2 linked regions of the Homo sapiens genome follow. The protein of the gene in region 1 interacts with the protein of each later gene in a biochemical or structural test. Each region holds a gene or a part of one and is shown in the gene's direction. Other genes may lie near its edges.

Region 1 (4,126 bases):
GTAGCTGAGATTACAGGAGTGCACCACCACACCCGGCTAATTTTTATATTTTTAGTAGAGACTGGGTTTCACCATGTTGGCCAGGCTGGTCTTGACCTCCTGACCTCAAGTGATTCACCCGCCTCGGCCTCCCAAGGTGTTGGGATTACAGGCCTGAGCCACCGGGCACCCGGCGCATTTTATCTATTTAAAAAATGAATAACAAAAATCAGGATAACAGTTATACCACTGATATTTAACATGGCTCTGGATGTTCTTGTCAGTGCCTCCAGATGAGAGAAGTATATAAATATCAAAAATCGGTGCACACCACTGTGCCCAGCAAGGAAACATCTTTTAAAAATGGGAGACACCAGGCCATATTAGAGGCTCAATCCAATAGTGAGGGCGAGGCTGATGATACAAGAGAATAATTGAAGAAGCGATGCCCTTGAGAATGCTTGAAGCCCTGGGATGCCAAGTGCAAGTGGAGCGATTGCCCTTTAACCAGAAGAACACTTTGTCTGCTATTGAAAAAAGGTGGAAAGAGGTTATGAAGAATGGTGCAGATATTAGAAGTTTTGTAGAATTTTTTTTTTTGGAGACGGAGTCTCGCTCTACCCAGGCTGGAGTGCCGTTGCAGGATCTGCAATCTCCACCTCCCGTGTTCAATTTATTCTACCTCAGCCTCCTCCCGAGTAGCTGGGATTACAGACGCATGCCACCACGCCCGGCTAATTTTTGTATTTTTAGTAGAGATGGCGTTTCACCATGTTGGCCAGGCTGGTCTCAACTGCTGACCTCGTGATCCTCCCGCCTCAGCCTTCCGAAGTGCTGGGATTACAGGCGTGAGCCTCCATGCCTGGCCAGAAGTTTTGTAGATTTAGCCGTGGCATGATCAAGGAGTTCCTATCCGACAGTTTCTATTTTCTCAATAAGTTTTCTGAAAAAAAGGGGAGAGGCTGTTTCCCAGGGAGTGCACAATTCTGAAGGCTAACCAGGGGCGCCTGGTTTTGGGCAACTACAAATGTGGTTGTGTTCAAACTAAGCGTGTAAAGGTTGTGTTCAAACTAAGCTGGGCGCCTGTAGTCCCAGCTACTTGGGAGGCTGAAGCAGGAGAATGGTGTGAACCCGGGAGGTTTCGGACACGGGTTGGAGTGTCAAGAGAGAAGGCAGGAGCGTTTAGTCTGCTTCAGATATGAAGACTCCCTGTATTCCCAGTCCTAAGCAAGGGAGCAAAGGCAGGGGACAGAGCCCTGCTGCTCAGGTGAGGGGCCCCACGTGGAACGCGCCGGCGCGGGAGGGGCGGCCTGGCGCAGGTCATTTGGGACATCTGCGGGTTGGCGCATGCGCGCGAGGTGCGCAGGCTCGCGCCTTTTTCCCTTTTCTAAGCTTTCTGTGTTACCCCCGGTTCCGCTGTCTTTTCTGTCTACAGTTTGCGATCCCCGCGTCCAGGATGGAGCAGCTGAACGAACTGGAGCTGCTGATGGAGAAGAGTTTTTGGGAGGAGGCGGAGCTGCCGGCGGAGCTGTGAGCGGAGAGGGGGGAGGGTGTGGGAACAAAGCGGGAGATTTGAAAGAAGGAGCGGGAGAGGCTGCGTCCGCACCGCCTCAGACTGACCGGGCCCGGGGCCCAGGGACCCGGTGCAGCTCCCTGGGCACCCGACGAGCCTCCGGAGTCGGGGCCTGCCTCCCAAGGTGTTCTTTGGGGCCACATTCAGCCAGAGCCTGGACTCTCCCTCGCCGAGCAGTTCATTGTTTCCCTTGATTTCACCTCTCTCCCTAAGTTGAGGAGTTTCGGCCACTGGAATGTTTTTATAATAGGAAATTGCAACCGCCGTAGGCTTTTCTCGATGTTTAGTTGGATTAACTTATCCTTGGGGGATCTCTGCACCCTCAGCATGGTGTATATAAATGATCAGAGGAAGTTAACCACGGTCATAATGTGGAATTACTTTCAATATTATAGCAATAATGCTAATTAGCGTTGAGGGACTTTTGCGTTTGGGCTTTTGATCAGCAATACCTTTTGAGAAACATCTTTAAGGCATCATAGCCAATCTTGCGAAATTCATGGCCTGAGGTTAGGTGGACTACAGGAATAAAGCGTTTGCAAAATAATAGAACCTACGGTCAGGTAACAAAAGATAACTTGCAGTGTAATGTGAAAGGCGTTTGGTGTTATCACTGGAGAGGTAATGACTTTGGACCCTCCTTTGGTCCCTCACTGATGCCTCAGTCAAACGGGGAAGACTTAAGAGGTACTTAATAGGAGAAGGGCTGTTTTCTTGAGAGATTATTATTTTGCATAATTTTAGACAGCTTGGACCGATGGATGAAAGTATTGACAAATTGACTTACCCACTATAAATATAAGTAATAAAGTTCTGAATTACTCTGTAAAGGATTGAGCTAAATCGATAGGTATTAAGCCTGCTTTCTGTCCAGTGAGATTTTATCGAAAGATTTCCGGCATTACTTTAGCAGGTTGGACTAAATTATTTCTAAGTACAATTCTGTGGCTCATGATAGGACTTTCAGTGAACCACGGACAATACCCTTTTCCGTAACATAAGTCTCATATTTACAAAAAGGATCGTGTCCAAAACATCTCCTTTTACTTGTACTTTGGGAAGGCTTGCACCAGTGGTAGAAATTTCTTGTTTAATGTTGTCCAATTTATACTTTCCTTTCTTTTTTCTCCGCCAGAACCGGGGTCTTTTTCTGTCGCTCAGGAAGGGGTGCAGTAGCATGATCGTATCTCACTGCAGCCTCAAACTCCTGGGCTCAAGCAGTCCTTCCACCTCAGCCTCTTGAGTAGCTGGGACTACAGGTGTGCGCCATCATGCCTGGCTTCCAGTTTATTCTTAATCCTCATTGTAATGAGTGTCCCACAGAACGCTTTACAGAAATTAAAATGGAAAATCTCATATCATGAGCATGTTTGAAATGGCATTACTTCTGGGAAGTTTTTATAATAGGAATTCTTCTGTGTCTTTGCTCTCTTAATTTTACCTATTTTGTCTAAATGTCATTGCAATAAGCTTTTCAGAAGAAAGAAACCTAGAAAACTGGAAGATTGGTTTGTAGATAAAACATATTGGATGGCTTCTTATTTCATGGTTGTGCTAAAATAGTTTTGTATGTGTGTGCTTTAGATTTCAGAAGAAAGTGGTAGCTTCCTTTCCAAGAACAGTTCTGAGCACAGGAATGGATAACCGGTACCTGGTGTTGGCAGTCAATACTGTACAGAACAAAGAGGGAAACTGTGAAAAGCGCCTGGTCATCACTGCTTCACAGTCACTAGAAAATAAAGAACTATGCATCCTTAGGAATGACTGGTAATTTTTATGTGACTTTGAGCACCGATTTGAATCTTAAGGGTACTGTCGTAAAACTCATCAAATGGCTTCTGTGAATGTTACTATAATTTAATTGTTTAAAAGGGAGTAGGTTTGATCTTAGCCTAATTCTGCATGAAAATTGTATCTATTACTCCTGTATCTCAAGTCTCATATTCCAAAAATTGACTTTTGTTGTCATTTGAAAATCACGTGGGCCAGGCATGGTGGCTCACACCTGTAATCCCAGCACTTTGGGAGGCCAAGGCAGGCGGATCACCTCAGGTCAGGAGTTTGAGACCAGCCTGACCAACATGGAGAAACCCAGTCTCTACTAAAAATAAAAAAAAATTAGCTGGGTATGGTGGCACTTGCCTGTAATCCCAGGTACTCTGGAGGCTGAGGCAGGAGAATTGCTTGAACCTGGGAGGTGGAGGTTGTGGTGAGCTGAGATCATGCCATTGCACTCCAGCCTAGGCAACAAGAGCGAAACTTCATCTCAAAAAAAAGAAAAGAAAATCACGTACAAAGGACCTTATTAATGACTACTTCCTATTTCCCAGTACATTCTTTTTTTTTTTTTTTTTTTTGTATTTTTAGTAGAGACAGGGTTTCACCATGTTAGCCAGGATGGTCTCGAATCCCCTGACCTCGTGATCCGCCCACCTCGGCCTCCCAAAGTGGTGGGATTACAGGCGTGAGCCACCGCGCCCGGCCTTCCCAGTACATTCTAAGATTGCAGTTTAAACACATGTTAGTTTTAACTAAAAGCAAAATTAATTAAAACATATGGACATTCTTAGGCCT
Region 2 (4,028 bases), on another chromosome or scaffold:
CTACGCATATTTCCTCTGCTAGAGACAGGCTGAATCTTAATTTATGTTCAATTCTGTAGTGTAAGAATTTTGTTTCTTGGAGTTACTCATGATCAAATGTCGTAACAAAAGAACTTAGGTTCTCAGTGGAATTTATTAAAATATGATTTTTGTTTGTTTGTTTCTTGAGACAGAGTCTCACTCTGTCACCCAGGCTTAGCTCACTGCAACCTCCACCTCCCAGGTTCAAGTGATTCTCGTGCCTTAGCCACCAGAGTAGCTGGGATTACTGGCGTGTGCCACCACACCCGGCTAATTTTTGTATTTTTAGTAGAGATGGGGTTTCACCATGTTAGCCAGGCTGGCCTCGAACTTCTGGCCTCAAGTGATCTGCCCACCTTGGCCTCCCAAAGTGCTGGGATTACAGGCATGAGCCACTGCGCCTGGCAAAAGATGATTTTTTGTATAATAAAGTTATTTAAAGTACTTAGGAAAAATTTTTAAAATATGAATATTATGGTGTTGAGAAATACTTCCTATGTCATTTTCCTCTGCTTTTCCCCTTCTCTTTTGTCATCTAAATGAAGAGAAGCCAAAAGCTGTACCTTGTCTTAAATTTTGGTTAATCATTTGCTTCTAAGAGGTAGATAAGACCTTACTATTAATTCTGTATTAAAGAATTGTTATCACTCTTTATTTAGATTTTCAGATTCTACTTCAAAGACTCCTCCTCAAGAAGAATTACCTACTCGAGTGTCATCTCCTGTATTTGGAGCTACCTCTAGTATCAAAAGTGGTTTAGATTTGAATACAAGTTTGTCCCCTTCTCTTTTACAGCCTGGGAAAAAAAAACATCTGAAAACACTCCCTTTTAGCAACACTTGTATATCTAGATTAGAAAAAACTAGATCAAAATCTGAAGATAGTGCCCTTTTCACACATCACAGTCTTGGGTCTGAAGTGAACAAGATCATTATCCAGTCATCTAATAAACAGATACTTATAAATAAAAATATAAGTGAATCCCTAGGTGAACAGAATAGGACTGAGTACGGTAAAGATTCTAACACTGATAAACATTTGGAGCCCCTGAAATCATTGGGAGGCCGAACATCCAAAAGGAAGAAAACTGAGGAAGAAAGTGAACATGAAGTAAGCTGCCCCCAAGCTTCTTTTGATAAAGAAAATGCTTTCCCTTTTCCAATGGATAATCAGTTTTCCATGAATGGAGACTGTGTGATGGATAAACCTCTGGATCTGTCTGATCGATTTTCAGCTATTCAGCGTCAAGAGAAAAGCCAAGGAAGTGAGACTTCTAAAAACAAATTTAGGCAAGTGACTCTTTATGAGGCTTTGAAGACCATTCCAAAGGGCTTTTCCTCAAGCCGTAAGGCCTCAGATGGCAACTGCACGTTGCCCAAAGATTCCCCAGGGGAGCCCTGTTCACAGGAATGCATCATCCTTCAGCCCTTGAATAAATGCTCTCCAGACAATAAACCATCATTACAAATAAAAGAAGAAAATGCTGTCTTTAAAATTCCTCTACGTCCACGTGAAAGTTTGGAGACTGAGAATGTTTTAGATGACATAAAGGTTTGTGTTAAATGTTCAAGGATTTTGATTAAAATGATTGCTTGTGATTTCATTTAGAGCTAACAATTATTTCTGTTTTAGAGTGCTGGTTCTCATGAGCCAATAAAAATACAAACCAGGTCAGACCATGGAGGATGTGAACTTGCATCAGTTCTTCAGTTAAATCCATGTAGAACTGGTAAAATAAAGTCTCTACAAAACAACCAAGGTGTGTACACCATAAACAGGATCTCCACTTTTTTAATGACTTCAGATTGAATGTCATTATTTACTTTTTTAAATAGATTGAATTGTTTTGGAAAAAAACTTATTTCTTCCTTCAGGTGTCTGTATTTATAGGACGATTCTCACATTTTACCGGTGATTTTTCTGTTCTTTTTTTTTTTTTTTTTTTTTTTTGAGACGGAGTCTCGCTCTGTCGCCCAGGCTGGAGTGCAGTGGCGCGATCTCGGCTCACTGCAAGCTCCGCCTCCCGGGTTCACACCATTCTCCTGCCTCAGCCTCCCGAGTAGCTGGGACTATAGGCGCCCACCATGCCCGGCTAATTTTTTTTTTTTGTATTTTTAGTAGAGACGGGGTTTCACCACATTAGCCAGGATGGTCTAGATCTCCTGACATCGTGATCCACCAGCGTCGGCCTCCCAAAGTGCTGGGATTACAGGCGTGAGTCACTGCGCCCGGCCACTTATATACGTTTTTAAACTCCTTTAAAAACATTGTTGGCCCGGTACGGTGGCTCACACCTGTAATCCCAGCACTTTGGGAGGCCGACGCTGGTGGATCACGATGTCAGGAGATCGAGACCATCCTGGCTAACGTGGTGAAACCCCATCTCTACTAAAAACACAAAAAATAAGCCAGGCATGGTGGCAGGCGCCTGTAGTCCCAGCTATTCGGGAGGCTGAGGCAGGAGAATGGTGTGAACCCGGGAGGTGGAGCTTGCAGTGAGCCGAGATCGTGCCACTGCACTGCACTCCAGCCTGGGTGACAGAGCAAGACTCCGTCTCAAAAAAAAAAAAGAAAAAAAAAATTGTTTGCCTTAAGATATATAGGCATCTTTTCATAATTTTGCTATATTTTATTATTATTATTATTATTATTTGAGACAGGGTCCTACTCTGTCACCCAGACTGGAGTGCAGTGGCATGATCACGGCTCACTTGCAGCCTTGACCTCCCAGGCTCAGGTGGATCCTCCCATCTCAGCCCCCTGGATAGCTGGGACTACAAGCATGCACCACCACACCCAGCTGATTTTTTTATTTTTTGAAGTGACTGGGTTTCGCCTTGTTGCCCAGGTTGGTCTCGAACTACTGGACTCAAGCCATCTGCCTGCCTTGGCCTCCCAAAGTGCTGGGATTACAGGTGTGAACCACCCACGCCCAGCCTGCTATCTTTAAAAAAGTAATTTTTTTTTTCAGCCACCAAACATTTCTGTAGTTCAAGTGCAGTATTTTTTCTTGTATTCTTCATTGGCAAGTTATTCCTTTATTCTGGGTTTATTTTCCCTTTTTCCTGAAGCACAGTCATTAGTTGTTTTTCCAGTGAGTGTTTTAGTCTCTATATGAAAACATTTTTTTCACTATCATTCATGATTTTTTTTGAGCTTTTTGTTTTTATTTTTTTCATGGTTGCTCTAGGGATTACAGTATCTACCTACTTAGCCTTTTACAATCTACTTGGAGTTAATGTACTATTTCATGTTCTGTAACTACACTTTATGTAGTTCCTGTGTATTTTATCTACATATATTGAAAACCCCATCAATGTTATAGTTTTTAATTTTAAAAAATTTTAATTGAAATATAAATCACATACCATAAAAATCACCCATTAAAATGTTCAATTCAGTGGTTTGGTATACCCACAGAGTTGTACAACCATCACTGTAGTCTAGGTTTACAACATTTTCATCACTTTCCTTCCCCATATACCCTCTGCAGTCCTAGGCACCTTAAATCTACTTTCTCTCTTTGTAGATTTGCCTATTCTGGGAGTTTTCATATAAATGGAATCGTTTAATATATGATCTTTTGTTACTTCTTTCACTTGGCATAATGTTTTCAGTTATCTGTGTTACAGCATATATCAATATTTTATTTCTTTTTATTGGATAATTTTTTATTGCATAAGTATACCATATTTTAGGTATTTATTAGCTGACATTCAAGTTGTCACTTTTTTGCTATTATGAACAATGCTGCTATGAACATTTGTATACAGGTTTTTGTGTGGATGTATGTTTTCATTTTTCTTGGATTATACCTAGGAGTGGAATTGTTGGGCCATATGCCAATTCTACATTTTACCTTTTGAAAGACTGCCTGTTTTCCAAAGCAGCTACACCATTTCACATTCCCACCAGCAGTATGTGAGGGTCCCAGTATCTCCACCTCCTCACTAGCACTTGTTATAGCTTTTTGATTTTTGCCATCTCGTGGTTTTGGTTTGCATTTC

Evidence for each region.
Region 2: the proteins of DNA2 (region 1) and RBBP8 form a complex in vitro, tested with the Homo sapiens proteins (one study listed by BioGRID).

What each region holds. Positions count from the first base shown.
Region 1 is NC_000010.11:68,469,174-68,473,299, reverse strand, and holds the start of DNA2 (DNA replication ATP-dependent helicase/nuclease DNA2), read left to right. Parts: upstream 1-1,326; 5' UTR 1,327-1,414; coding exon of another isoform or gene 1,415-1,435; coding exon 1,436-1,509; intron 1,510-3,136; coding exon 3,137-3,319; intron 3,320-4,126. UniProt on the Homo sapiens protein: Key enzyme involved in DNA replication and DNA repair in nucleus and mitochondrion.
Region 2 is NC_000018.10:22,992,068-22,996,095, forward strand, and holds part of RBBP8 (DNA endonuclease RBBP8), read left to right. Parts: intron 1-680; coding exon 681-1,572; intron 1,573-1,653; coding exon 1,654-1,780; intron 1,781-4,028. UniProt on the Homo sapiens protein: Endonuclease that cooperates with the MRE11-RAD50-NBN (MRN) complex in DNA-end resection, the first step of double-strand break (DSB) repair through the homologous recombination (HR) pathway.